2 separate regions of the Homo sapiens genome follow, and region 2 is linked to region 1. A link means that fine-mapping ties the variant in region 1 to the expression of a gene that starts in the linked region. Tissue or cell type: whole blood. Region 1 holds a variant in brackets; the other region holds the start of a gene. All regions are shown on one strand. Distances are between the middles of the regions. Region 1 overlaps BIVM-ERCC5 (BIVM-ERCC5 readthrough). Region 2 holds the start of ERCC5 (ERCC excision repair 5, endonuclease).

Evidence for each region. PIP is the estimated chance that this variant, and not a neighbour inherited with it, causes the effect.
Region 2: ERCC5 starts here. The variant in region 1 is fine-mapped to the expression of ERCC5 in whole blood (TOPMed, PIP above 0.99).

Annotation. Positions count from the first base shown.
Region 1 is chr13:102,866,650-102,882,167 of GRCh38, reverse strand. BIVM-ERCC5 (BIVM-ERCC5 readthrough) reads right to left here. Exons shown (of 23, transcript NM_001204425.2): 19 at 15,323-15,518; 20 at 13,911-14,055; 21 at 9,770-9,970; 22 at 8,825-8,909; 23 at 6,173-6,861. The coding sequence ends at 6,265. ERCC5 (ERCC excision repair 5, endonuclease) reads right to left here. Exons shown (of 15, transcript NM_000123.4): 11 at 15,323-15,518; 12 at 13,911-14,055; 13 at 9,770-9,970; 14 at 8,825-8,909; 15 at 6,173-6,861. The coding sequence ends at 6,265. It also overlaps the pseudogene METTL21EP. Among named protein-coding and RNA genes, the nearest start is that of ERCC5, 28 kb to the right of the region's middle. RefSeq lists an enhancer at 15,281-15,518. The variant G/T (reference allele first, on the strand shown) is at 7,416.
Region 2 is chr13:102,841,220-102,855,309 of GRCh38, reverse strand. ERCC5 (ERCC excision repair 5, endonuclease) reads right to left here and starts at 9,278. Exons shown (of 15, transcript NM_000123.4): 1 at 8,956-9,278; 2 at 3,017-3,192; 3 at 1,438-1,553; 4 at 936-1,022. The coding sequence starts at 9,043. It overlaps BIVM (basic, immunoglobulin-like variable motif containing), which reads right to left. Exons shown (of 11, transcript NM_017693.4): 11 at 13,777-14,090. BIVM-ERCC5 (BIVM-ERCC5 readthrough) reads right to left here. Exons shown (of 23, transcript NM_001204425.2): 10 at 3,017-3,192; 11 at 1,438-1,553; 12 at 936-1,022. RefSeq lists a silencer at 8,490-8,539 and enhancers at 8,701-9,523, 8,890-9,679, 9,890-9,939, 9,524-10,348.

The DNA of each region.
Region 1 (15,518 bases):
TCATTCAAATCATCTAAATGGCTGGGTTCTCTAAGTGATCGACTTAAATGGTTAGGTTTGCAAGAATCGCTTGGTAAAACTATTTGTGTTTAAGCCAGGTAGGCTGCCAACACTGGGCATACACCCAGCTTTCTTGGCCTAAAGATGTGTTCTCCTAGGTAGAAGCCACCTGGAATGGCCAAAAACAGAAAAACCAGAACTATAGTGTTCAGAAAACATCTACAGTGTGTGCAGATAAGGAGAGAACAAAAGAAATCAAGATATTTAGATTTGTATTACAACTGCTCTACAAAAATATGGTAATTTTTCTAGTCTGTCAAGAGTGTATGTCTGTACTTTTGATCTCAAGACAATGGGGACAGTTATATTACATAACCCATGCAAAGTCACGCTTGATACTTAAGACTATATAAAAATGATGGTTCAATTTCAAATAACCACACTGATAGTAGAATTCAAACTTAATCTCTTTACATCCAGAGGTCAAATTACATTATGTATTTGCCTCTAATAAATAGTTAGAGGAACCATAAACTCAGGCTACAGATGTCTGTATAGCCTAAATTCACCTTTCATCCAACCACCAGTAAAAACTTATAGTTTTCACATAAAACTATTTTTATCTTTCTTGCAAGCTTCTTATCTGAAATAAAATTTGCTTAGAAATCACATCATACATTTAGTGTACAGCACTTGAGAAAAAAATGTATTCCTTATTTGAAGATCAAAAACCCTGTACATGCTTAGTAAGTCTATATATTTAATTTAATCTGTCAAAAGTATCTTTAACATATCATCAAGATCATGGTATAGTAATAGACTTAAACATGATTCAAGATGTTTGCAGGCTCACAAATATAAACCAAGACATAATATGCCATTGATAAAAGTGTCAGCTCCATTTAAGACATTAATGAATACTACAAAGGTGACACTTTATATTCTATTAGTTATTTGTCTTCTTAGAATTGGTAAGCTACATAAACATAAAATGACTTACCTTCTTGAGCTTCTGAATCCATCAAGTAATGAAATGATGGTAGGTGATATATTGATGTTTTCTTCATTATTTCTTGAAAACTAGATAGATAATACATTAAAATATCAAATGGTAATAATTCAAAATATGTATGGAGTGCTTTTATAGTTTCTTAATAAAGCTTAACTTCAAATACAGCAGACAAAATTATATTAAAATATCATATATTAACGAAGCGTGACTTAAGAAAGACCATCTAAACACTATCTAGAACAAATTAAAATCAGAACAAAAGCTTCTGAGTCAGAAATTTTAAAAAGCTACTACAGAAAGAAAACATATTCTTCACCAGAGACTACCTCAGTTGTAACAAAGAAAGGCATCATCTTCATATTGACTAGTAAGACTGCAATCCTAAAATTTAAGAGGCGATTAAAACATTGAAAGTTCACTTGTTACCATCAATGCATCATTAGCACCTATGCAATGTCAAACAGCCTCATTGCCAGATAATCTTTTGAGCAGCGTCTACCTTAAGGAGTCCATACCATCACAGCCGATATATTTAAAACTGAAGAAACTATTTATGCCTCTTGAATAGAGCAGATTATCTGAATAAATTTAACAGTTATTCAAACTTTAGAAAATAACGATTTGATATTTTACTTCTCAATCTGGGGTAAAATAACAATTGCAGTACCATGAATTAATATAGCACTCCTTTCTTCCGAGAATCCCAAAGCACATTTTACAGCCACCACATTTTCTTTTACAGCATACTTCAGCAAGTTAGAAGACATTATTTTCCCTACAGTTTGCAAATCAGGAAAACCAAGGTTAAATTATGTCATTGAGGCTACACAGCTAAAACGATAGCAAAAGTGGTCACATGTTTTGCTCCCAATTTAGATCTCTTCCATTAAAGAAAGACATGTCTGCCTTAAGGCTGATATTTAAATGGAAAGCCTGGACATACCTAAAGGAGTTAGCTGAGTTTCTAGAAGGTTAAAATGTATCATCCACAATTTTTGTTTTTGCTGCTGGGACCTCTGGTAGTGACTGAAAGGCTAGCATCGCAGCACAGTTTACTACTATACACACTCGCTACCACTGGTAACGAGTCCAGGCAGAAGGGATTAGGATTCTGACAGCTGCAGCTCCCACGCCTCTGGTTATACAGCAGTGAGACGGCAATGCCCGTAACTAAGGGGGCAGAAGGCTAGGAATATCCCACGAGTGTCTCGTGAACAGAGCTAAAGGTGAATACAACCCACTCCCGGAAGTGAGTGAAGACTATTTGGAGGAAGTGATCCAGCTTTTAACTTGGATGCCAAGAGTTATTCTAAGACTCCGTGGCTATGACATTCTAGGAAATGAACGCTACATATTTTTCATGTCACCTATCTGCATGGGAACACTGTCTTTAGACTCCAACAACCATACTAGAATGTCTGTAGCATTGCTCTGCACCCAGAAATCAAACTACCATGATTCCTTTTTATTCAGACTGAATGGGCAGGCTCCGAACATAGATCCATCTGTGCACCTGCCCAAGTGCATGTATGTGTGCCTCTCAGAGGACATACACATTTCCCATGCCACTGGAAAGATCCCTGATAGAAAGTTACAGAGTTAAGATAAAGCAATATTGGAAAGTTAAACTTAGGAGTGTGACTACAGGTCCATAATGTATACACAGATGAATCGAGGTCACTTTAATGTATTGGAAAGGGCTAGGAGTTGGGAAGCCTGATTTTAGTTATTCCTGCCTATAATTAGATTGTGATTTTAAGCCATTTACTTAGTATGTTTCTTGGTTTCATCATCTATAGAACAAGTATATATCGGCAGGGTGCCTTAGCCTTTGGGAGACCAAGGCAGGAGGACCACTCAGCCCAGGAAATGGAGGCTGCAGTGAGCCGTGGTCACACCACCAAACTCCCGCCTGGGTAGCAGAGCAAGACCCTATCTCAAAAAAATATAAATGTCTTTTAAAAATGATACAAAAGTCATACAACATATATTTGTGGGGTGAATATTATAGGTAAAAACATTCTGGAAAGTTCAAAATCCTAAGCAATGTGAACTATTATTCATAGGCAGTTAACTTGGGGCAGAGGATACTCTTTCTTTGGGGCTTTTTTAAAAACAAAATAAATGACGAATAAAAACCATTGTCTTTTTTAAGGATTTTTTTGAAAGATCATGCAATCCTCACTGTTAGATCTCTTAAGAGGCAGAATCCCTCAATCAAGCATCTTAACCAACATGACTGTTTAACAAATACATACAGACTTCTGCCTCCAGCTGTAAGTAGCTTATAGCAAACCTCAGCTTCTATTAACAATGAGAAAAATAGATTTTTAAACACACACACACACCCCACACAAACATGCCTCTGTTATAAAGTATCAGAGAGCTGTCAAGGCAGCCAAGAATTCCAGGCATTGCTGTTTCCTGAGGAAGCCAAAGAGAAGACCGCATGTAAGGATAGCAGCGGAGCATCAGGCAATCTCACAGAACTGTGGAGACAAAAGAAGAGTGTGGCTGCCAAGACAGTCAGATTTGTGGGCCCAAGATCCCAGAAAAAAGGGAGAGAGAAGCCTGACGCTTAGTGCTGACTATTCAGTCGAAGAATTGACTGATTAAGCTGTTTAGGGCAAGAGGCTAATTTTTGAAGCATTCAGTGGCAAAAGCAGATCCAAGCGCAAAAGAAGAAACATCAGGGCACTCCTGGAAAGTGACTTTCCTGGAATACGGGTGAAACTAGAAGCTGGAGTCTTACAGAAAAAACTGCAAACTAGCCTTCAATCTACTTTGTCCTCGCTGGCTGCACTGAGGTGATCTTCCCCTCTGCTGCCTGTCCAAATACATTCTGGAATCCTCTCTAGAGGAAGGTACAGGGTACCTATAATTTTTCCCATAGACTGTCCAACATTCAGTTAAAATTTACCCATGCATACCAAGAAACAGACAATAGAAATAAACTCATAGGTGACTTAGATATTGGAGTTATTCGACAGACTTTAAAGTAACTGTGATTAAGATACTCAAAAACAGATGACAAGAAGTACACCAGGGAACTGGAATCTATAAAAATGAGTCAAATTGAAAAAAAAAAAGAGTCAAATAAAACTGAAAAATAACAATCAATGAAATAAAATACTCAATATATGGGTTTAACAGCAAGTATAGATAAAGCTAAACAAAATATTAATGAGCTGGAAGATAATCGAAAAGGCGTATGATGGTCATCATCCTAAATAAGCTCTAGGTACACCAACTTGATGTGAATAATAAAGAATTTGTTCAGCTGCTGATTATTTTAAACAGGCAACCTCTTTCATAGGTAAAATAGCACCCTGGAATTTTGAGTTAGAAGATTTTGGTTCAGGTGAGAAGTTTTACCTACTACATGGGTGAATTTGGCAAAACTGGTTAATGTCTCTAAACGTGTTTCTCCCCTTGTAAAAGCATTATGTCTTGGTCACAGGGTTAAGAGAAAAAGAAGATACAATATCAAACTCTCATATAAATAGTGTTACAGAACAGGTTTCTCATGGTCCTGACCATCCATTTCCCCTTCTGCTTGCCCTGGACTTTGGTTCTTTCCCCTTCTGGCAGGATGCAATGCAGATGAAGTAATCACCCAGTATAGACCACTCAGGCAAGATAGCACCCTAGGGGTTGGCTGAACACAGGACTGCATGACCTCATGGTGCACAACTGCTTCACCAGCTCAGACTGGCCAGACTGTTGAGTAAGAGAGAAGTAATGTTCTAGCTTATTCAGACCACTGTATATGAGCATCTTTTGTTACAGTAGCTTATCCTTTCCCAAAGCTAACGCAGTGAAAAACAAATGTAAATATCTATTAAAGGCATCAAATTAAATTTGTTAGCAAGACAATTATTCTACCTGCAAATATATATGCAGAAAACTCCCAGTGACAAGTAATTCTGAGAAATGAGAAAAACACGAAAAAGTTAATTTTCCCCTCCCCTTGCCTCCAAAAATGTTCTGCTCCAAGTACCTCCAGAGAAAAGAAGCATGAAGAAAAGATTTGAGTTTATGTGGAAATCATTGTTGACTTTAGAAGGAGCTGCTAGAGAAGAATGATGGATGCAGAAGACGTATTTGAAATTAGGAAAAAATAGTGTGCAAAGAAAAGCAGCTGCTGTAGTCCAAGTACTGGAGAAGTTTGGCTGGCCAAGTCAATATAAATGAGAGCCTAAAAAACAACACATCTAGGAGTCGTTCAAAGACTGCTGGAGATTATCTATTTGGATTTTGTTTTCATTGGTGAAGATTTTCAATTTGAAGGCTGAAGGAAAAAGTCAGGAAAGATGGAAATACTAAAGATGCCAAAAGGACACAGACTTGGGAAGGTAGCTCTGAAGGCAGAGGACCCACGCTCAAAGTAATTGGTAGTACTCTCCTCCAATCATTCTTAACTCGAAGCAAATAGGAGCTTGGGGGTTGTTCTTGGGAGACGTCTCCACAGGAGCAGTCTTAAAATAACCTTCTTTGTCCACTCTGAACAAACACTGTGTCAACAACAATCATCCCCTGCAGGCCACTCCTAAAGCTGACCCACCTACACCAGTTCAACTCCAGCCCCCAGCCTCCAAATCCATTTACACAGAAGTCAGCTTCTAATAAGTGAAGTCTGGTTTAAAAGCCAAACATAACGGTACAGAGGTTCCCATACACTTAATGTTCACAGGTAGAATGATGCACCCCATTTAGGTTTCCTAATTGTTTGCTAAAACCACAGCAAACATATTGAAATATGTTCCAGCAGTGAGGCTCCCTCCTGCTATGCTTTTAAGTGGAACCTGAGGGAAAATGCAAAGCCGTGGGCAGCAGGGCTAAACAGTTGTGTAAAACTGCCACTATTGTGGAATTAGAAACATGCACGTATTTCTTCTCAGCTACGTCTGAATGTCAGAGGGAAAGCCTATTGAGAGTGAGTGCTGATCAATAGAAATCTTTTTCGCTTTTTTAACATGTGACCAGGAAGGATCAGACATTGTTAAGATAATGAAAACATGAAAAGACAAAGCCTGTGAATACAAGATAATATCCAATGATACTTGAAATATTCAGCTAAAAAATACTAGAAAAGTAAAACATTAAAAAACAAATGTCAGATTTAGCATTTGTTTTTAGGAACCACACACTAAATACAAAGACCGTGCCACCAGTTAATTTTATTACGTCTTTGCGACAAATTCATTACAAATGGCTGTCATAACTAATTATAGAGGATACATATTTTTTAATTAGGTTTTCCTTTTTCTTCCCCTCGCACGTCTTAGTTTCCTTCTTTTCTTCCCAAACACAGATCTGGCGGTCACGAGGACCATCTTCTCTTTCCCTCCATCGTCATCACTATCACTAGAGCTGCTGGTGGTCGCACCTCCATTCTTCACGGGAGCTTCCTTCACTGAGTTCTGCGAATCTGAAGCACTGGTTTTTGGCTCTTTCGCAGCTGTTCTCCTTTGTACATTCATTAAAGATGAACTTTCAGCATCTTCACTTGAAGATCCATCAGATGATTCTGAGAGGCAGGTCTCCCCCAAAAATCCACCGCATGTATTCTTTCCTTTAGAATCTGAAAGCCTCTTTCTTTTCAGGCTTGATGACTCTTCTAAGGTATTTGTTATGCCTCTCTTCTGGGTTTTTCCTTTTGCCTTATCAAGTAGCTCAAATTCTTTCTCCATGGCAACAGAAACTGCTTCTATTTCGCTGGCTGCTGCTTCTTTCTCTTTCCTTAGCATACATGTCACAGCTCTGTTTAGTCTCTGGCTCTTAATACGTTTAGCATCTTCTTTCTCCTGTTGTGCTAATCTAAAGAAGGAATCAATTCGGAGCTGTGTCTAAAAAAATAACAAAAGAATAATAATAATAAATCAGACAAGTAAGTCAAGTTTCTAAACCAAATCAACAAGCTCAACCTTGATCACTCACATTGGATTACTATGTCAGAGAATATTAATTCATTATCTCCCAAAACCCAGTTCTCTCCCAGTGAATTACTGACAGTAATTTTCACTTTCTAAATCATACCTAAAGCAGTACTTGTACCATCTCTGTCAACTAAGTCTTTAGTCCACATCTCAAATGAGAAATCTCTTCCTAAGATATTCAAAGAGCGTTAAATATTTTTCTGTAGCTAAACATTTCATCTTCCTCAGGAGCAACACGACTTCATGGGGCCTGTTTCTAAGTCCTACTATATCTTTCTTTTAAAAACATTATCATCATACAATACCTTTGAGAGGCAAGTTCACAGTATATATTAGCAACTGTAAGAAATATTCATGCCTTTTATTCAGTAAATTCACTTTTAAGAAGATATTCTTTGGCCGGGCATGGTGGCTCACGCCTGTAACCCCAGCACTCTGGGAGGCCGAGGTGGGTGGATCACGAG[G/T]TCAGATCGAGACCATTCTGGCTTACACGGTGAAACCCCGTCTCTACTAAAAAAATACAAAACATTAGCCAGGCGTGGTGGCGGGCGCCTGTAGTCCCAGCTACTCGGGAGGCTGAGGCAGGAGAATGGCGTGAACCCGGGAGGCGGAGCTTGCAGTGAGCCGAGTTCTCACCACTGCACTCCAGCCTGGGAGACAGAGTGAGACTCCGTCTCAAAAAAAAAATATATGGGTAAAGCTATATGCCTAATGTTCATCACAGCATTACTATAACAAACTTGAAAATTAAAGGTCTAACAAGTAAACTGAACTAATTATTTAAATATCTTTCATGAAATATAATCTAGTCATCTGGAATTAAGAAAACCACACAATACATAGAAGAAAATATGCTAATAAGTTGGGGGGGAGGATTAGATCTATTAAGTTACATTTAGTATGGCCACAAATAAATGCAGGAAAATTTTTTAACCTAAATGTTAACAACTGTATTAGAGGAGGTAACTAATGAGTAGTTTTAATTCATTTTCTTCATTTTCTAATTTTGGAAAAATAAACACATTAAGTTTTAGAATGAAAAAGGAGATAAATATTACAACAAAATTTATCTGAAATTAAGAAATCACCAGACACTAAGACAAATAGCTTTCCTTTTTGGTTGGTTTATAATGTTTCCAGTAGATAGTCATCCAAAAAACAAAGAGAAACTCATAGAAATGCTGTCTTAGTTTTGTTCATGTTTTTCAAAATTATCCAAGCCTAATGAAAATGGGTTTAATTTAAATATATTATCACAAAAGCTACATTCTCATTTCTGCTAAGTGGTTTATTTGTATGTATGTTTTGTGGGTTGTTTCTAGTGTGGGCGAAAGCTTGTTTTGTGTGAGTCAGAACATACTCACAGATAAAGCAAGAAGTAGGTACCTAGAGGAACTAAAGGTCATACAAAAGGGCTCCTTCCCACAAAAACCTCTCCTACTGATACACAATAATGACTGAACTTCTACCTTTCAAGATTCGTTTATAGAATTTAAAAATATTAGTACTTATAAAAACTTAAATGATCAGAATTGCTTTGAAGACTTCCTTTCGTTAAAAAATGAAAGTAAATCCCAAGGGGTAATGTATTTAATCAGAAACACCTTAGTGTGAAATCAGTTATTAGACTGGTTTTTTCAAAGAAAAAAATGAATATGAAAGGACTCCAAAGTTCAGCCCTAAGAGTGATCATAGAAAATGAAGCCAAAGTCTAACTTTTCTTTTTCTATTTTCTTCTATTCTCTCATCTAAATTATCCTAATTTCAAAATGTCTGCTCTATGCCCCAAAATAAGAGTTAACTGGTCTTTAACAGCTGTCAACCACAGCCTACCCTTCATCCTGAACTTAGGAGAAGGGTCCACCATGATTACCTGCTGGGCATCGAGTTGCTTTAATACAGGAAACAGAGATTCATCTGTCTTCGTTCTGTTCCAGCCGAAATACCGCTGACAAAATATGCATGCAGTTAAGACTTATAAATATTTTGAAAGATATTTAAACAAGTGACAAATAAAAAGGTCCAAAGAACCCATTCTTGATTCCATTCCCTGTATCTCCTAAGATTTTCCTATTTATAAAGATTAGAGTGCTAAAAGAAAGTACTAACAAAATAAATGACTCCAGCATAATCATCTGGCACTATGTTCTTTTCAATTCTATAAAATAAAACATATTTAGCTCTCACTTTAGGACATCAAAGACTTGTGACTATGAAAAAAGGTTAACTGGAATAAAAACAAGTTTCAGATATCTTGCCTATTTCATTAAGAGAAAAAATCAAACGTAGTTGGATTAATTCTAGTGCAAGTTTTGAAACATCTATCCAAATGATTACTTAAATATACACGGAAAGGACAACCAGTAATAAAAAGGACAAGATTAGTCATCTTTCCTTCTTTCAGAATCAATAATATTTAAGTATGTGGTTATATCTATGAATGCTTATCACTGCTTATTCAAACAAAGACCCTCTTTAAAACTAAGGAGAGGGGCCAGATGCAGTGGCTTGTGCTACTTAGGAGGCTGAGGCAGGAGGATTCCTTGAGCCCAGGAAGTGGTGGCTGCAGTGAGCTATGATTGCACCACTGCACTCCAGGCTGGGTGACAGAGTGATACACTGTTCCTTTAAAACAAACAAACAAACAAAAAACAACAACTGAGGAGAGGGAAGAAAGAGTGAAAAGGAGAGCGGGATATTAAGAAAATGGGATTAACGGGATATAAGAAAAAAATGATCCAAGTTTCTCTTCCATAAGTTTTAAACCAAACACATATTTGACAAGGTGTTTCCTTCTCTTTTAAGAAGCAAAGGATATTCTCTAATTTTGTCGAGATCAGGTTTCCCCCACAGAAAGGATCCCTTCGAGTCATCCACCACGGGTTTGAGGTAGGCCTCGGCAACAGCTGGGTTAGGAAAGCCAGGGGTGAGTTGCAATGTCCGTAATTTTTTTTTCACTTTGGTGTCATGAGGATTAGGTCTTATCTTTGGATTTTTTTGAGCTTCATGCCACCATTCTCTGTAAAATAAAGGAAACAATTACTTACACAGCAATGAGACATTATAGTTCATACACTATGGATGAAGAACTAAACTTAGAACATGTAAACTCAAGTTCTAACTCAAATTGTATGCTATATAGAATATTTTATTAATTTTAGTACTATTAGCCACAATGTATAATGATGGCAAACATTTATGGAAGTCTTCCTCTGTGCTTGGCACTGTGTTAAATATTTCACATGCCCAATCATCACACAAGCCATGCCCTATCGTTACCCTCACCTCACAGAGGAGGGAACTGAACTCAAAAATAAGTAACTGGCTCAAGATTTCACAGCTGGAATTGGTACAGTCTTCCTCTAGAGCCCACACTCATAATTATACCACAGAAGTTACAACTTCTCTGGGTCTCTTTCTCAGCAGTAAAATGGAAGTAATGTATCTGTATTATTTACCTCAAATCAAATACAATAATGGATCGAAGAATATTTAATAAAATGTAAATATGCCAAGAAAATGTTAAATTTGTTTAAAAAATCTGTAAAAACAGATACATGTATCTGTTTTTAAAATTTAACATTTTATATATATATAAATACATATGTATGTAAAACAAATAAATATATACAAAAACAGAGATAATAGAACTCTACTTAAAGTATGATTCCAGTTTTGGAAAAAACACATATATGAGAAAAGTAAACAGATACTTAAAATAAATAACACTAACAACTATTATTTCGCTGTGTGCTAGGCAATATTCTACGTGAGCACACAGCCATTCATTTTCTTCTTTATATTTTATTCATTTTTCAATGTTTTCCATTCTAAGCCTAAATCGGCCGGATAAAGACAGCGACACACTCTTGGACCCTCCTCCCATCACGAAGGGGGTCCCTGTGGCCTCCTCTTGAGCAGGGCGGCCATGGCTGACCAGTGTGACTCAAGCCGTGCCAGGCCTAGGGGAGGCCCTCGCCACTTCCTGTCCCCTGGACCTCCTGCTCTTGGCTCCAACATGCTATGAGGAAGCCAAGCTCACCAAGTGTCCACCCAGGCCCCGAGGCCGAAGCCACCTCATCAGCCCCGCGAGCCATCTTAAGGGGTCCTAGCCCAGCTGAGCTGTCCTAGCCGACATGGAACAGAGACAAGACACCCCCACCAGGCCTGAGCGAGCTTCAGAGGCATGAGCAAAATCAGTGACTACTGCTGTGTGAAGCCACTAAGGCTGAAGGTAGTTTGTAATGCAGTGACGACTGACCAGAAACATTTACACAATTAGGAAAAAATAAATGCCATCAAAGTTACTAACATAATCCTCACCAATCTATGTACTCAATGGAACCTGAAAAAACGCCCGCAGCTCAGGCTCCCCCGCTTCACAAGCTTGCTAGTGCAGCATTAGGAACCCACTCAGACCGGCTGTCAGGGCCAGGGTCCGCCTCACCGATGCAGGAGTGCCATCTAGCGTTGGAAATTACTAATTGCGGTCTTCAAAGTATTATAACAACAAAATGCAAAAAGGAAAAAATAATTTTTCTTCATTACTTTTACAACATTCTTTCCAGGAGTGCACTGAGAGAATACCGATAATTCTCCTCTACTTTACTTGCAGATTTTCGTTTTTGAAACTGTAATCATGACTGGCAGTTAGAATCAGTGCACTTGTGAGCTCATCAAGCCAAAGCTATGGTTACTCCTTCAAGCAGGAGGGCCTGGCACTTCACATAAAGATGAAAGGAGGAAGGTGTCTGTCAATCAGCTGAGCTGGGGGAGTGGAGGCAACTGTGATGAAACTGAAGGATTCATGCCCAGTCCAAGGCCTTGGGGTAGGGGAGGGGAACTGCTGTTGCTCCATGCCAGCTATTTTGGGGCTATCCAGAAATTCAGGCCCAGTATTTTCAGCTCTCCTTTTTCCCCCAACAGAATCCATAATTTTGTGTAAAATCTCCCAAAGGTAAATGTTGGTAGCCAATTGAAAATTAAAGCTCAAGAGAAGAATACACCGTGTAGTCCAAACCAAATGTGACTACAGCTCAATTCAACCTGCAGGCCCAATGCAGCCCCACTCTAAGAATGATTCACCAGCCAGGGTGCCCTCAGAAGAGGAGAACAGAAAACAAAGTGAGGCCACATTCTGATTTTACTGGTTTCCCACCATCCTTCCTGCTCTTTACTCTGTATTCATCCTAAATGTCCTGAGCCAGGCAGAGCGAAGGCTGCTCCTATCTGGCATCAACGAGCTGGAGGACCAAAGGCAGAAACTGCTCAAATATGAAAATGATTCAGCAGGCAACAAACGAGCAAAAACTGCTGAACAAAGAAAAGTGGAACAGCATAAACAGGTCATTCACTAAATCAGAAACACAAACCGTCTATGAACATAAAAAATTCACTCTCAATAGTTATCAAGAAACCAAATGGAAAAGTCAGATACTATTTCACTTATTCTAAAATAATCATTAGATAAGAACCCGAAGATTAAGGACACTCAAATCAATGTCTGTTAATACCTTTCTAAAAATAGAAATAACAAAAGACACTTGATTAAACTAGCCCTGATAGACGCAAAAAGATACTACCTGTAGCCATTAAAAACGATATAAATCTATATCATCGTTGATAATAGGTCTTGTTCTAATACCAAATGGGTTACAGGTAAAATAAAAAGTATATAGCATCATCCCATTCTTATAAAAAAAATCATACACACACTCAAATGAGTATACATATATATGCAATGTATATGCATATATATGTGTGAAGTCTAAAATTACATAAACAAATTGTAAACTGTAATCATCTTTTTAATACATATTTATAATTTTCTATGATGTATTTACTTTATTTGTATAATAAAGTTATTTGTAGGTTTTCAAGTTATTTACCTACCATGACGTATGTCTACCTCATAACTCATTCCCGGTATATAAATTTCCTCAACAATAAGAAAATCAGAAAAAGATAAATGAAGAAAGTATAAAATACAACACATTGGTGAGTGTGCTATGACTGGAAGACCATGATCACTACAACAGTTTCGCCGTTCATTTCAGTGATTCCAGTCACTGACTCTTCAGGTCAGAGCATCCTAGCATCTTTCAAACACAGGATATGTAACTGGAGAGAACACTCAAGGATCATTAAATCAGCCACCACCAAACAGCATCTCACGACATAGTGACGGTTAAAAGATGCCACCACAATCTTGTGAATACACTAAAAACCAATGAACTGTACACTTTAAATCGGTGAACTCTGTGGTATGTGACTATATTTCAATTTTTTAAAAAGATGCCATCAAGGACAAAGAAAAAACTACTTTCCCAGACATACTCATAACTCCTACCATCTCAGAATCTTCAAAATGATAAATGTACCCCGAGTATAGCACGACTCTGGGTTCTGGATGGAGCAAGACTTCACCACTGAACACGTCACGGGATTCACATGGTGAGAAACAGGACAGGAGTGCTGGATGTAACATTCCTGGCATTATATTTCCAAGTCGCTTCCTGGCTGACCTCTCTCAGGACACCAAACACACAGACAAGTACAATTTGCTTTGCTTCTCCATCACCTCCAAGTATATGGGGGGAGTCCTTGAGGGTATGGCCTATGCCTTACTCATCTCTCCTTTCCCCAGGGCCAGCACAGTGTCTGACACATCATAGCTGCTCTATAAGTATGTCAATGGATGAAAAGGCAACTTCTACATTCCTGTGAAATCCACAGGACTGGCTTTGTACCCTTGAACTAGGATAAGCCCAGCACCACTAAGAACTGACTCTGATTTCATCATCTCTAGAAAATGGAAAACAACCAATACTTTCTGCTGCTTTCTCAGTGAACCATTGTTCACATGTTACAGCATGACAGTTCATGCTGTAAATAATAGTTCTATTTGCTTATTTGGGTATTTACACAATTATCCAAATTAAAGAAATAAAAGACCTTACGAGAATTTTAGGAGAGGTTCCAGGCCATGCCCAGGGAATTCATTGAGAATTTCCATGGCGGTTACACAACCCACAGTTGGTATTCCTTCGGTATAATCACTTCCAAGCAAATAAGCCAAATTTATTAACTTATTCCGGTCCAATCCTAAAGAGTAACAATATTTTTTAATTTTTATCAAGATTTCTTATATGACATTTATAAACATTTTATTATATAAATCATGTACGTGTGTATATCTATATCTATATCCAACCACCAAAAATATCTTATTATTTGAAAATAAATTATTTTATTCAATGGCATTCTGTTAATATTTTTAAAGTTTCATCCATTCTCATAGCTTTAAATACCCTCTATACGCTGACCCCCAAAGTTAGCTATCTAGCCTGAGTCTCTCTGAACCACAGTCACATATATTCAACTATCAACTCAACACCTCCACTGGGTATCCAATGAGCATCCCCAATTTATCATATCCAAACCTGAACACTTCGTTTCTCCTCCTCCACTGTGCTCCCTCCTTGTCTTACTGAAGGCAGGTCCACTCGACCAGCTGCTCAGTATCTGGAATCCTCCTCGACTTCATTCTTCTCCCACCCCACATTCAATCTGCCTGCATACCCTAGCACACCAGACCCTGGTGGGTTTCAGCTTCTTCCTATTCTCTAAGATTAACCCTTGCCATTTCCTCCCTCCTCCTCTCACACTGGCCTCCTTGCTTCCCTAGAACACAGCCCACAAGCTTCTGCCTCAGCCCCTTTCACTCACTAGTCCCGAGGTATCTATCTACAGTGCTTGCTTCCTATTTCCTGCAGGTCCCTGCCTTGAAGTTACACGAGTAAAGCCTTTCCCAACAACTCTCTGAAACAGCACCTGCACTCTCGATGCCTGAAGTTCACTCTCTCCTCTCCTTTACTGTTATATTTTTCTATTTGGCACTTACCACCAACTGTCAAATTATGATTTATGTATCTGCTTATCATCTGTTTCTCCTACTATTTTACTCTCTGTTCCTTCCCTCTTGTTAAGAACAACTGGCATATAGGAGTCACCAAACATATATTTGCTGGATGAACAGAAGAAGATCAGTGCCAGAAACCCGAATACAGGCCCAGGCGCGGCCTGCTTCCCCTCTCCACCACCTTTTGTTCACTGTGGAGATCTCGGGTAACTAGTCAAAGTTTAACTAAGTCAGTTGATTAACTACCTAAACATACTAGGACTTTAATTCCTTAATTCAAATGTTTAAAATCCTATTCCTCTATATAAGCCAAAGATCACTCATATAAAAATTTGCATAGACCTGCAATTTCCATCAATGCATCAAACTAGTTCCTTGGAAAGAAAACTTCCTAGGACAAACTCTGAAGGTAAATGTCAGAAAGTAATCAAAAAGACTCTGAAGTCTTACCCAATTGATTGTGAAAGTCCACATATTGATAATATTCTACAAACTTGTTTTTATTAAAAAAGTTTCTATAGACATGCCGCGCTCCAAACAGCCAGATATCACTGTCATCAGTGATGGTTCCGGAAGTCTGATCAGTCAGGTCCAGGATGGCGCACTGCGCCTCTGCTTCCATGGGAGCCTGGATGTAGGGAATGCC
Region 2 (14,090 bases), 26 kb after region 1:
CCACTGCACTCCAGTCTGGGCAACAGAGACTCCATCTCAAAAAAAAAAGAAAGAAAAAAATGAGAAGGAGAAGCTAGAAAGTGTTTTAAGTAAGGAAATGACAATATCAGATTTGGATTTTAAACAGACTATAACACAAAACAGAGATTGGGCTTGGTGGGAGGAACTATTACAAAAAGGGTATGATCAAAGACAAAGACAGAAAGAAGTTTAAAAGCTAATAATGTAACCTGGAGAAAAAATGACAGTGGTAGCAATGGAGACAAATAGAACTGAGCTGATACAAAAGCTAAGTTGTCTCTTGGGAACTCCTGGGAAAGGAAGAGGTGGAGGGAAGGACAGGGGACAAAGGCAAACTGCCAAGCTTCCGGTTCTCCACCTTCACTTCAAACACAGAAACCACCAACCATTAAGAGAGAGACAGAGGAAGAGGAGTCCACAGAGAGGCTGAGCAGAAAGCGCCAGAGAGATGCCGGGGGAGCGGGGCAGTGTGGCATGGTGTTTAGTGCAGAGAAGTCGAGCACACTAAGACGTGCAAAGCGTCTGCTAGATTTAGCAACAAGAATGTCATGGGTTGTGGTATTTTAGCATCATGGTGAGAGAGACCATACTGGATTGAAAAGCAGCTAGAGACAGCATGTGTAAGCAAAGTGTAAGCAAAACTAAAATTCATGCCTTGGAGAATTTAGAATCCACAGCCCTGGCAGAAGTTCTTTAGAATGAAGAGGAATAAGAATCATGAATCACCAAAACACAAAGAATAGTAAATAAAAAATTTAGTCTTTGAAAAATATTCTGAAAGGTATAGAGCATGCCTATTTCAGATGCATTAAGAAATGTTCACATGCCTTATCATGTAGATAACACATCAAGGTTTAAATGTGTCTGAATGTAGCAATGACTAAAATAATATTCTTAAATAGTTAAACATTTACCTGTGTTTTTCTTCCTCTTGTAAAGGAGGCAAAACATAGAGGTCGTTTTCTCTTCGAACTTGGGTAAGACTGGGTAGTGCTTCATCTCTGGAAAGTACACAAATCTTTAAACAGATTATGCAGACCCTGCTCAGGATGGTGAACAGGGACCTGACCTGGCTGCTCTCAGGCCACTGCTGTGGAAAATAAATGCAGCCGAGAGAAAGGAAGGAACCTTGGCGGGGCTGCTCACCTAGAGTCAAGAAGACCATAATCAAAGTAAAAAGTGTACATGACGCAACACGACAGCTTTTTTTTCTCATTAGCAAAGTTGATTCTCACAGAACGGAGAATTGCCACAACTCCAAATTACCAGGTCAAAATGGCAGCCTACTTGTCTCATTTCACTCTCTATTTTCTGTTGAGAGTCAAAATTAGATAGGGAAAGAGAATCGCAGGAAATCAAGACAAAAATCACTTTTTTAAAACTTCATCTCTAACACGACTATAATTTTCCTCTTGCCTTTTGCTTCTGAAGGCAGTTTTGATGGCTTGTCTTTTCAAAAATGTTTTCAGAAGCTTCTCTGTCGTTTTCCTGGAGTCACTGGACGCTAAGTCCTTTCTCTGCCTTCTCTTCACCTATGAGAAGAAAGGATGTAAGATCTCACTTCAGGATATTAGACCACTAGAAACATTGCTGTGATTTATTTTCCAGAGAATTTGGTTTGTCTGAGTTTTCAGACTATGGCTGCTTTAGCATTTCCTCCTAATTGCCATATCAGTGTATATCTTCAGGTTGCTGCTACGTAAAGGACACCCAGAGTTTCCATCTATTACTTAATGGGCTACTACACAATATATTTGGGAAACTTAATTTACTTTCAGTTTCTTTTAAATGTCTTTTAATATGCCCAAGAAGTGGAAAGCTTAAATGCTTCCCAAAAGAAATTATTTATTTATTCTATAAAATGTCACAGTGACACCAAAAACAATTTCTAATATTGCTTTTTATAAACATGCATTACTTACATGTAATTCTGCCCTTCAATATTCAAGATTATATATCATGAGAAATTCTAAAATGTATAGAAATATCTTGTAAGAAATGTTCAAGTAGTGACAAATGGATAGTCCCTGTGCTTATGGCTGAATATCGGATAAAAATAACCAAGATATTCTCTTTTCCTTTCTAATCCTTCCACAAAGTACCTGATTTACAGTATGCCTTGGGTAACTGAAAACTGCAACATTCAAGACTAGACACTCTTACTGAGGCAACAAAGGTCCCCCAGCATTTATAAATGCTTTTTATTTTTATCCTATATCCTTACTTTTATCCTATATCCTCATTTAGAGAGTATCTGGTATGATTACAAAGTCATCATTTCATTACTTTGGTATTTTCAACAAATAAAAGTCATATATCCAAATGGGTGCTGTCATTTGGACTGTTTAAACATTATTTTATGTCATTTTTTTAGAGATGGGGTCTCCCTGTGTTGCCCAGGCTGGACTTGGGCTCAAGCAATCCTCCTGCCCCCGGCCTTCCAAAAACATTTTTTAAAACTACTTCCAGAACAATAAAGCAGCAACTCATTCTGACTCTTCTATATCATGGTCAATTTCCTTCCTAGATAATCCACTTTAGTCACCACTTGGCACCACATAACATTGCTTACTCCTAAAATCCAATTCCCCTTAAAAGAAGGCTTGCTATCACGGAGGATACTTGATCTCAGATTCAGGGAGGCACTTCCCAAAAGAGGGTTTCCACAGTGTTCTGAGTGATGGCCGCATCCTTGAAATAAATATAAAACACCTAACAAGATCCTCTGAAGGGAAAACTCTCAACAGCAAGGTTTTTAGTAGTTAGTTTTATTTAAAAGTTAAATTTTATCATTGTACCCATGATGAACTCTCATAAAACTTTTTAAAAGAAAAATTAATTGTTCAAGATAAAAAAGTAGATGTAATTAAGTATGTGTCAAAATAAGTCTGTTTCTAAAATTCTAAAGAGAAAACAAAAATTTTATGTGAATTTTTCTAAGAATGCAGAAAGAAAAAAATTATTTGACACTTACTAAAAACTATACGACACTTACCAAAGTCTGTTTCTTCAATAGTGGAGCATCCCCATCAAACACAAAAATAGGACGAATTCGAAAAAATAAGAGTTTGCAGAGCCGATGAAACAAAGTGAGAAGATGAGGATTTTCTATTGAGTTCCCATGGCGATCCCGGACTCCTTTAAGTGCTTGGTTTAACCAAATGCTAATATCTGGGAGAATTGTTAATGGAAAAAACTCCGGGATTTTTCTCTTCATCCTCACAACTTCAATTTCCTAATAACTGATATTATCCAAACGTTGAACACTAAATACTTATCACTATTCATTTAAAATTGAAAAACATTTAGCTCTCATGGGATCTACCTAAAGTCAGTTAACTTTTAGTTGAACTCTTGTTACCCCTATTCACATACTGCATTTTAAAATCATACAAAGACAGACATATCCTTTTAAGAAGTCTCATTGCAAAGAATTGCTTCTTTAAAAAAAAATAAGTGATTGCTAAAGAATTTTCATGAATTAGCACAAATTTTCTGGAGGACAATTTGACAATTCATAGTGAAAAAAACTTTTTAAAACTTTGCAGTCTATTTTACCACTTCCAGACATTGATCCTCAGAAAATCATCATGGATATATAATGAGAGTTATTTACAGAATGCTTGTTTATAATAATGAAAATATAAAAATCAACTTAAAAGTTTTCCAGCAGGTCTTTTTAAAAAACTAATCATAGGCCGGGCGCGGTGGCTCACACCTGTAATCCCAGCACTTTGGGAGGCCGAGGCAGGTGGATCACGAGATCAAGAGATCGAGACCATCCTGGCCAACATGGTGAAACCCCATCTCTACTAAAAATACAAAAATTGGCTGGGCATGGTGGTGCGCACCTGTAGTCCCAGCTACTCAGGAGGCTGAGGCAGGAGAATCGCTTGAACCCAGGAGGCAGAGGTTGCAGTGAGCCGAGATCGCGCCACTGCACTCCAGCCTGGTGACAGAGCAAGACTCCGTCTCAAAAAAGAAAAACTAATTATGGCAGACCTATTTGCTGGAATACCAAAAAGCCCTTAAAAATGGAAGTTGCAGGAGCATGTGTGATAAGGAAGATAGTCATTAAATATTATTAAAGATAGTAAAACAGGCTATAAAACCATATAAAGTATAACTCCATTTTCTGATACAGTATATATGTTAAATATAAAAAACTAGTTCACATACCAAAATATTAAAGTAGATATTATGTCTGCTGAGACTAAAGATAACTTATATTTTCATCTTGAAGTTTTCTTATATTTTTAAACTTTTCTAAAAAGTGCTTCTCAAAAAATGTTATATTTGTCCAAAAGAAAGAGTGACACCGCGCTCTGCTGGTTTTCCTGCTCTCAGACTCTTTGCCAGCTCCTGTAACACTGTTAAAGTATTCACTTCATCAGTGATCTTTCTCAGGCCCTCTTCTTTCCTCCTGTCTGAACTATCAACCTCCACTCCCCTCCACATACACCACGCCCTGACTCCATGTATATGTCTGGCCCAGAGCACGCTCCTGACCCCAGAACAGAGAGCCCAGATGACGTCTCTACCCCATACCTCATAGACATTTCAAACTTAACATGATCAAAACTGAACTCCATGTCTTCTCCACTCAGCTGCTCATGCCCCCATCTCAGTGAATGTCCCTGCCATTCACCTGAGCCAGAATGCTGGGCATCACCACCTATAGCTATTACCAGGTCTATCAATTCTATCTTCTAATGTATCTTGAAGGTATATACTAGATTTCACCAACGTATCTTTGGTGAAAACCCTCCAAAGCTTCCCACTGCCTTCAAGATACTATCTAAAACTTCTTCTCCTGGTCTAGGAAGCCTTGAATGATCTGGCCTCTGCTCACTTCCTGCTACTGGGCTTTCCTCAAACCCAGAAATCACTAAGCTCCTTCCTGCCTCCAGGTTCTTCTCACATGCTGCTTCCTCTGCCTGAAACAGTTTCTCCCTCTCTCCGCCTAGTTCTCTCCTACTCTAAGGTCTCAGTCCAGGGGTCCCCTCCTCAGTCTAGATGAAGACATCCTCCTTGTATACATTCCTATTTAAAAAATATATTGAGGCCGAGTGCGGTAGCTCACACTTGTAATCCCAGCACTTTGGGAGGCCAAGGCGGGCAGACCACCTGAGGTCAGGAGATCGAGACCATCCTGGCCAAAATGGTGAAATCCTGTCTCTACTAAAAATACAAAAATTAGCCAGGCATGGTGGCGTGTGCCTATAAGGCTGAGGCAGGAGAATCGATTGAACCTGGGAGGCGAAGGTTGCAGTGAGCCAAGATCACGCCACTGCACTCGAGCCTGCGTAACAGAGGGAGACTCTGTCTCAAAAAAAAACAAAAAGAAAAAAAAAACAGAGAGAAACCTGGACTGATGCTAATATTTGCAGGTAAATTTCTAACATAGGAAAAGAACATTGAAGGGGCCACCTATCACGTTATTTCTGTTTTTATTATGTGGCAGCATTTTTTCTATGCACTGGCATATCCAGTGCACTGAACAAAACACAGTATTGGCCCTATGGAGTTTATAATCTAGCAGGGAAAAAACCCAGCCTGTGTGCTCCATGGCTTGCCCGGGCAATTTGTGCACTGCACTCCCTTTCACAGGGACTCTTATACACAATAAATATCTGCTATTAAATAAGTTGAACAGTTTAGTATTTAAATGAATGTACACTGCCTAACTTTTACTAACATAAAAAAAAATGTAGGTCCATCAACAATTAATTTACAAAACACTATGTAACAAAATACCTAGTGGAAAGCAAGCTACTGCTATGCTTATTTCTATAATATTTAGCAATACCATGGGCCAGGCATATCCAAGACCCTAGGGATATACACCAAACAATTCAGCCATGAACAAAACAGAGACGGTCCCTATCTCCAGGAAGCCAGTGCAGCAGGACAAAAGGAATGGCAGGAGGTGATACGGCCACTGGGAAGTTTCTAGAACATGATTTAAGGATAACTTTGATGAACATGTGAAGAACAGATTATAAGGAAACCAGTTCTAAAATGAGTTACAATAGCCCAAGTTAACGCAGACAGTAGTGGTGGAGACCACGAGAAGAGATCGGATAAAAGATACATCTCAGAGGTAGAACTTGGTGTTGATGTGCATCTGTCTTGTATTAGATCGATGTTTCTGCTTGCTACAAGTATAGTCTGGAAAAGCCATGAAGCTCACTATTACATAGGATTAAATTAGTTTCTACTTGGCCCACTACTTTAAACTTTAACTTCAGTGAGGAAATCTAGTTTCAGATCAGTGGCTCTCATCCCTGCTATCCATTAGAATAGGATATGAAGCTTCTGAAACATACGGATTATTAAACCCCATGGGCCTAAAATTCTAAATCATAGAGACTGAGGTAGGACTTCTTTTATTTTTTATTTTTCAATTAACTACAGGTAATGCCAATTCTCAGCTAGGGTTGAGAATTTTGGCTTGAATTCTTAGAGATGAAATATGTAAAATTAGACGACCTGAAAATATTCACATAAATTGTTAGACAAGAAATATGAAAAATGAGACAATCTGAAAATATTTGTATAATTTGACTTGTCTAATTTCAGTAAGTTTATATACGCAAAATTAAATTTCTGCGGACAGAAAAGTTAAAATCTGCAGCAAAGCCAAAAATCACTTTCGGTATAAGACCCAAAGACCAATAACATTTCAATACAAAAAATAAGTTTCTTTAGTTCTTTAGTTAGGTGACTTAAAAATCTCCATTAGTATACATAGCCTAAAGAGATGGTAATATCTTGCTAATACACTTAAACGCATATTACAAACATTAAAATCTATAAGAGACAAAAGTTTAACTTACTTCTGCATTATTTGACACAGACATTTAGACTGTATAAATAAGACACTAAGCTATATAGATGGTTTAAAGACCAAACAATTTAGTATAGAGATACAAGAGTAAATTATGAAACTAGTATAATAACGGGTAAGTTTGTCATTAACAAACAATACAATAAAATCTAAATAATTTCAGGTGTCTGAATTCCCGTGAAAATGAAATAAAGCAAAACCGATTGTAGAACAAGTAATCAGATATACTCCTTTGACATAAACGAGTTTATTATAAATATATGAGGTTGTCATGACTAGAATGTCTTTCACAGTCCTTTTTATTTATTTATTCAGAGACAGACATGAACACGGCTCATTGCAGCCTTGACCGCCTGGGCCCAAGCAATCTTCCTGCCTCAGCCTTCCGTGTAGCTGGGACCAAAGGTGCAGGCCACCACGTCCAGCTAATTTTTTGACTGTGTGTAGACAGGGGTTCACTATGTTGCCCAGGCTGGTCTTGAACTCCTGGGCTCAAATGATCCTCCTGCCTTGACCTCCCAAAGTGCTGGGATGACAGGCGTAAGCCACTGAGCCTGGCCACAGTCCTCTTTAGTAATTCTTCACAAGGGCTGCTACATAAAATGATCTAAATCTTTGCTGAAGTTTTAAGGGTTCTTGTCACTGAAAACTAACCTTTACCCTTTATTTCTGAGAAAATCTTTAGACTGCAATGATACTAAGCAACAGCTTGAGGGCAGCAACAGCGCATGTGCTCTAAAAAACAAAAAACAAAACAAAACAAAACAAAAATCCTTTGGCTTTCCCCAATTCAAAGTACCCTGTATAAAAACTTTTAAGCCAAAAATCAATTACAGATTTATTTAAAGATTATTCACTTGCAAAAAATGATAATCTCATTATGTTTTAAAACTTATCAATGTCGTTTTATTTATAAGTTTTGTACCTACTGAAGAATTAGGGCTCCACAGTCAGGGATTCCTTTGCTGAACGCCCACACACTCTTGCACTCCATTTCCCGTCCCCAATCCCCCCGCAATCATTTACAGGACTCTTTCCACAAGCCCACGAGCCCCTAGACTCATAGATCCCCATTTAGGAAATTGGTGTAAGGTATCACCAGATTCTGAGCCAGAATAGATACTCAAAAAAAAAAAAAAAATGACTACATAACAAAGAAAAAGATAAAAATTTCAAAAGCAGTATCACGTTTTGCTAATGAAAAAAGAATTTAATTCCAATGACAAACAAAACCAGCCAAACATGTACAGAAACAATAGTCCTTAAAAAGTCAATTTAAAAAATGGGTAAAACACCTGTCCACACTATCCTTCCTCTAAGAAACATAAATGGGGCAAGACTCAAGCAAAACTAATCGTCGAAGTCTACTCTGCTCTCCTTACTGACCTCCCGGACAGGATAATAACTTTAAGATTTACTGTATTAATCGCACTAAACTTCTCTCATGTAGGCAATTTCTTTATTCCTCATTCCAATCCTGTGTGTAGATACTATCACCACCTCTACTTTGCAGATGAGAGAACTAAGGCAGAGAGGAACATAAAGCACTGCCACAAAGTGACAAACCAGGATGCACAGGCCGCTAAGACTGCAAAGCTGGGGAAAGCAGACAGGGCGGCCCGCCTCATCACCCGATTCCGCAATCAACCTACCACGGATCAAAAATATTTGCGATGGAAAAAAATAAATAAATAAAACATACCAATAAAAACTACAAAAAATTTTAAAATACAGTATAACAACTATTTACAGATCACTTACATTGCATTCGGCATTACAAGTAAGCTAGAAACGATTTAAAAGATTACGGAAGTGGGTAGTTTATATGCAAATACCACGCCATTATATAAGGGAGTTGAAGGAACTTGAACATCGTGGTATACGGAGGAGGGGCTGGAACCAAAGCCCCGGGGATACCGAGGGACGACTGTACTTAGAAAACCTAGTGACAGAGATTCTATAGCGACCCCGACCCCGACCCAAGACCATCATCCTGCAGATGCCACTGTGCCCAAGGCAGAGCCCCGCGAGGAATCCAGCCCCGAATCCCTGCACCCCAAGTCCCAACGCGGCGTTAAGGATACCAACAGCCAGGATCTTCCCTTCCAGCGCTTCGGGGCTGACCTGCCGCCCGGAGCACTCCAGCAGCTTCCAGAGCCCCTGGACCCCCATGAGGCGGCTGCGTCCTAAGAGCGGACCCCGACAACTTCTACTCTAATTCTTCTACGACGGACTGCACCGCCGCCTAGGACCCCGGGAGGAAGCCCTCCCTGCTCCTACACAACAAAGATGGCAAATAATACAGAAGCCACGGTTTTCCAGTGGGGGACGGCACTAATGGGAGCGCATTAAAGCGGAGAGACTCTGGCTGCAACACGTCTCAGCAGCTGTCACCGCCTCCCGGAAGAAAGACAGGTCCAGAGAATGGCCGTTGGCGGGGAGGGGCAGGGCCTCGCCTCGCCCAGCGCTTAGGCCCAAACGTCTGCGCCGCTAATGGAAGACCGGGGTGCAAGGGCCACGCAGGCGACGGAAACAGCCAGAAGATGTCCCTGCGACACCTCCCGCCTTCGCTGGTGGGTCCGCAAACCCATGAAAAATGGGCCCGCTCGGTTTCCGTCTAATACGACGCGCAGGGCGGAAGCTCCGCCTCCGCACATGACGTATATTTTCTGCGCTTGCAGCACTCCGGAAGTGAGAAGTTTAGCGCCAGTGGTGATGCCTTGGTGGTTACTTGCTTCCGTCACGCTGGCATCCTGAAGGCGTTAAGCATTAAAACAATGTGCAAAAGCGCCTTCTTGGTGGAGTAACGGGCTTTTGTTTTTGTTTGAGACAGGGTCTCACGCTGTCGCCCATACTGGAGTCCAGTGGCGCATTCTTAGCTCACTGCAGCCTGGAACTCCTGCTGCCCGAGCTCAAGCAACTTTCCCATCTCAGCCTCTCAAGTAGCTGGGACCGCAGGTGCGCACCACTATGCTTGGCGAATTATTTTTGTAGAAATGAGGTCTCCCTGTGTTGCCCAGGCTGGGAACTATTTTCTACACGCTTTTTTAGTATCGGTTTCTACCTTTGCGCCGCCGTGTGTGAAGATACTTAACACAAAGTGTTGTTTTACACGTGAAGAGACAACCAAAAGGTGGATGCCTTCTTGGTTTTGTACTATTTATTTATATGCTAGCACGTAGTAACTAAAGAATAATAAAATTTAAAGCCTGTGAAAATGTTAGGGTCCCAAAATTACTAAGCAAAAGGGAAAAGTCAAGCTGGGAACTGCTCAGGGCAAAACCTGCCTCCCATTCTAGTCAGTCATCCTTCTGCTCACTGAGATAGATGCATATTCTGATTGTCTCCTTTGGAAAGGCTTATCAGAAACTCGTATGCAGCCTTTTGTCTCTCATCTACCTGTGACCTAGAAGCCCTTCCTGCTTCCGAGTTGTCCCCACCTTTCTGGAAGGAACCAGTGTACTTACATATGTTGATTGATGTCTCCTGTCTCCCTAAAATGTATAAAACCAATCTGTGCCCCAACCACCTTGGGCACATGTCATCTGGACTTCCTGGGGCTGTGTCACAGCTGCGCGTCCTTAACGTTGGCAAAATAAACTTTCTAAATTAACTGAGACCTGTCCCAAATTTTGGGGGTTCACAAGCCTTAATCCTTGACATATAGTTTAGTTTTCTTCAGCATCTAAAAGTTATAATGCCGCGGCTTGTAGATCAGAAAGGACTAGAAATCAATTAACAGAGTAACCCCAGAAAAGGCCACAGCTCTGGAACCCTCAGGCCAAGATTCAAATCCCCGCATCGTGCCTCACTATGGTGTTTAGCATCCCTGAAGTCACAGTTGTTCAGAATTTGTGTCTCCATCAGTAATCAGGGCATAAAACCAACCTTGCAGACTTCAGTAAGTATTCAAGGTGTTACATGCAACGCACTTAGCACTAGTAACTATAAAGGATAGTATTAGCATCCATATTTGTTCAAATTGGAACGAAATTTAAACTCAGTGAAAAGGCTGACTTAAGGGAGCAGGCAATTTTTTAAAGACTTCTTTATAACAGAAGTATACGGGAAATTGATTTTTTTTATTTTTTTATTTTTTATTTTTTTGACAGGGTCTCACTCTGTCGCCCAGGCTAGAGTGCAGTAGTGCAGTCTCAGCTTACTGCAACTTCCACCTCTCAGGCTCAAGTGATGCTCTTGCCTCAGCCTCCCGAGTAGTTGAGATTACAGGCCCCCACCACCACGCCCTGATTTTTTTTTTTTTGAGACAGGGTCTTGCTTTGTTGCCCAAACTGGTCTCAAACAATCCTCCTGCCTCAGTCTCCCAAAGTGCTGGAGTTACAGACATGAGCCACCGTGCTCCGTGGAGAAATCCATTTTTAGCAAAACCACTTCTATGCTCAATAAGATGGTTCACAGTGGCCATGTTTGGTTGACCTAGTCACATCTAATTTGCTACAGGAATAATCCTGACAAAGTGTTTTTTGCATTTCCTCCATATGTAAAGTAATCCCCAGAAACTGTTCCCAGTTGTTATTTTACTGAGAGTAATATAACTGCCTGTTCAGTATTTGTCTCTTCCCCATGGTAAACTGTAAACTTACTGAAACGAAGAACGATTTTCGTGACTGCTACATCCCCCAATCCTGGCACTTAGCAGTTCTGTAAATATTGCCTAAATGACCTCTTAAGCCTCTAGTCTAAAGCTCTCCAGTGCACCTTGCAGTCTGCTGAAAGAATCTGCTTGGAGGTTAGGCTGATCATTCATTCAGATCTCATCTGAACCATATGTTGCCTTGTGTTATGGTCTGAATTGTGTCCTCCAAAATTCATCTGTGGAAGCCTGAGTACCTCAGAATGTGACTATCTGAAGACACAGCGTTTAAAAATGATTAAATTGAAACGAGGCCATTAGGATAGGCCCTAAATCCAATTTGACTGGTGTCTTTGTAGAAAGAGGAAATTGGGCCACAGGGAGAGACTCCAGGGATGATAGGCACAGAGGAAAGGCCTTGTGAGGACACAGTGAGAAGGCGGCCCTCTGCAGGTGAAGGAGACAGGCCTCAGAAGAAACCAAACCTGCCTGCTCCTGGACTTCTAGTTTCCAGAACCATGAGAAAACAAATTTCTGTTGTTTACGCCACCCTGTCTGTGGTGTTTTGTTATGGTAGCCCTGAGAAACTAAGACACTGTGATCCTAGGCAGGTTTCTTCACCAATGAAACCCTCAGTTTCTGCCAGTAAAATTAGAATGCGACCAACATCTTGTTGTTCTTGTTGCTGCTGAGCTATTTAAGAACTGACCTGGTAATGGTGTATAATTTAGTTTGTTGAGTGAATCGCTGGTACAGGAGGGGTGGGAGTGTTATTGGTAAAGTTGAGATGCAGAATGTGATGGATCCTAGAAGAGCTGCCTGAGCCCCTCCAGTCTGGGAGAAGACAAGTTGGCAAGTATTTTGGGTGCTGCACCAACTTGGCCTAATGATGGCACACAGTTCTTTAACAGTAATAGCAGTAGGGAAAGGAATTGCTGCAGAATTTGATCTAAATAAACTTTTTTTTTTCTGCCTGTGAGCTGGGTAAAAATAAATAGCCAACATAGGCATTTGAGTATTGTAAGTACTTTTAAAACCAAAGCAAAGGCTGGGCATGGTGGCTCACGCCTGTAATCCCAGCACTTTGGGAGGCCGAGGCAGGCAGATCACTTGAGGCCGGGAGCTCGAGACCACCCTGGCCAACATGGTGAAACCCAGTCTCTACTAAAAATACAAAAATTAGCCGGGCATGGTGGTGCATGCCTGTAATCCCAGCTACTCGGGAGGCTGAAGCAGGAGAACCACTTGAACCCGGGAGGCGGAGGTTGCAGAGAGCACCACTGCACTCCAGCCTTGGCAATAGAGCGAGACTCTGTCTCAAAAAAATAAAGCAACATTCTTGAATATGAAATATTCTTTTGAAGAAACAGCAACTAAGGGGTGCATATGTGATTTAAAAGGAATTAGCTCCTTAAGATGCTATCTAAAGGGCTCTCTCTAAAGACTCTGAATAGTAAAATTCACATCTTTTGGAATAATAGCAAGCTCTTAAATAGCACTTCCTATCTACAAAGCACTGTTCTAAACACTACATGTATTAGCTTATTCTTCAAATTCATTTATAAAGTAGATACTATTACCCCCACTTTACTAATGAGGAAATAGGCACAGAAAAAAAATTAACCTTAACTTGCCTATATCACTATAGGTGATATAGCTTGTAAGTGCAGAGCCAGTATTTGAACTTTCACTGTATCTATAGGATTCCTAAGAGCTGACCAAGAAATCAAATATCAAGGGAATTTTACTAATCTTCTAAGAGAAGTATGCAGTAACTCTTGCTTACAGCTTCTGCGGGAAAGATAATCTCACTAAACTCAAACCTCATTGTGCTCTTAATAACTGGAAAGCCAAACTTGGAAGCCAAACTTAGAACAGATCAAGACTTTTATAAAAATTGATTATGGTCAATAGTCTGAATAACTCATCCTGTTTTTCTAGGTGTCTCCCTATCCTTTAATTTCTTATTTTATTTTGCATTTTTCTCCTTTCCTCTTGGTTCTTCCTACCTACGTCTTCTCTGAAATATTCAGTTGAACTGTATGAAATTGCTAATATTCAACCATTTTTGACCTACAAAGATGACAACTTCATTTGGTTCAAGCTAATAAAAGAATCAAATTTTCTATTTCCTATTAAATTAGAAATCTAAAATTACAGTCATCATAATGCATATTGTTTCATTAATTATAAAAGGCTCAAGATGGTTTCTTACAATGTACCAGTTGAGCAGAATTGACAAATTATCATGTACTTCAAAGACACAATGGTACCTTCTACCTAAAACAAAGGTTTAAAAACATTCATATAATTAAAAGTAGAAAACAAAACTTTATTTGATGAAATCTTTTTAAAAGTTCCAGTATGAAGTAACAAAATCAACAACCTACAAATCTCTTTCAGTCCTTTGCATTTCAAGCAAAATATTCTCTTCAGAAAAATGACCATTTCATAATATATATCCCCTTCTGTAGGCTAGGCATGTACGAGTGAACAAACGGATATAAAATTCAAGAAAAAAATGAAAATATTTTAAAAATAAAAATCTGAACCTTTTCCTTGAGGTGTATTGCGATATGGTTACCAACACATTCAGCACCTTGTAATCACCAAGTTACTGATTTG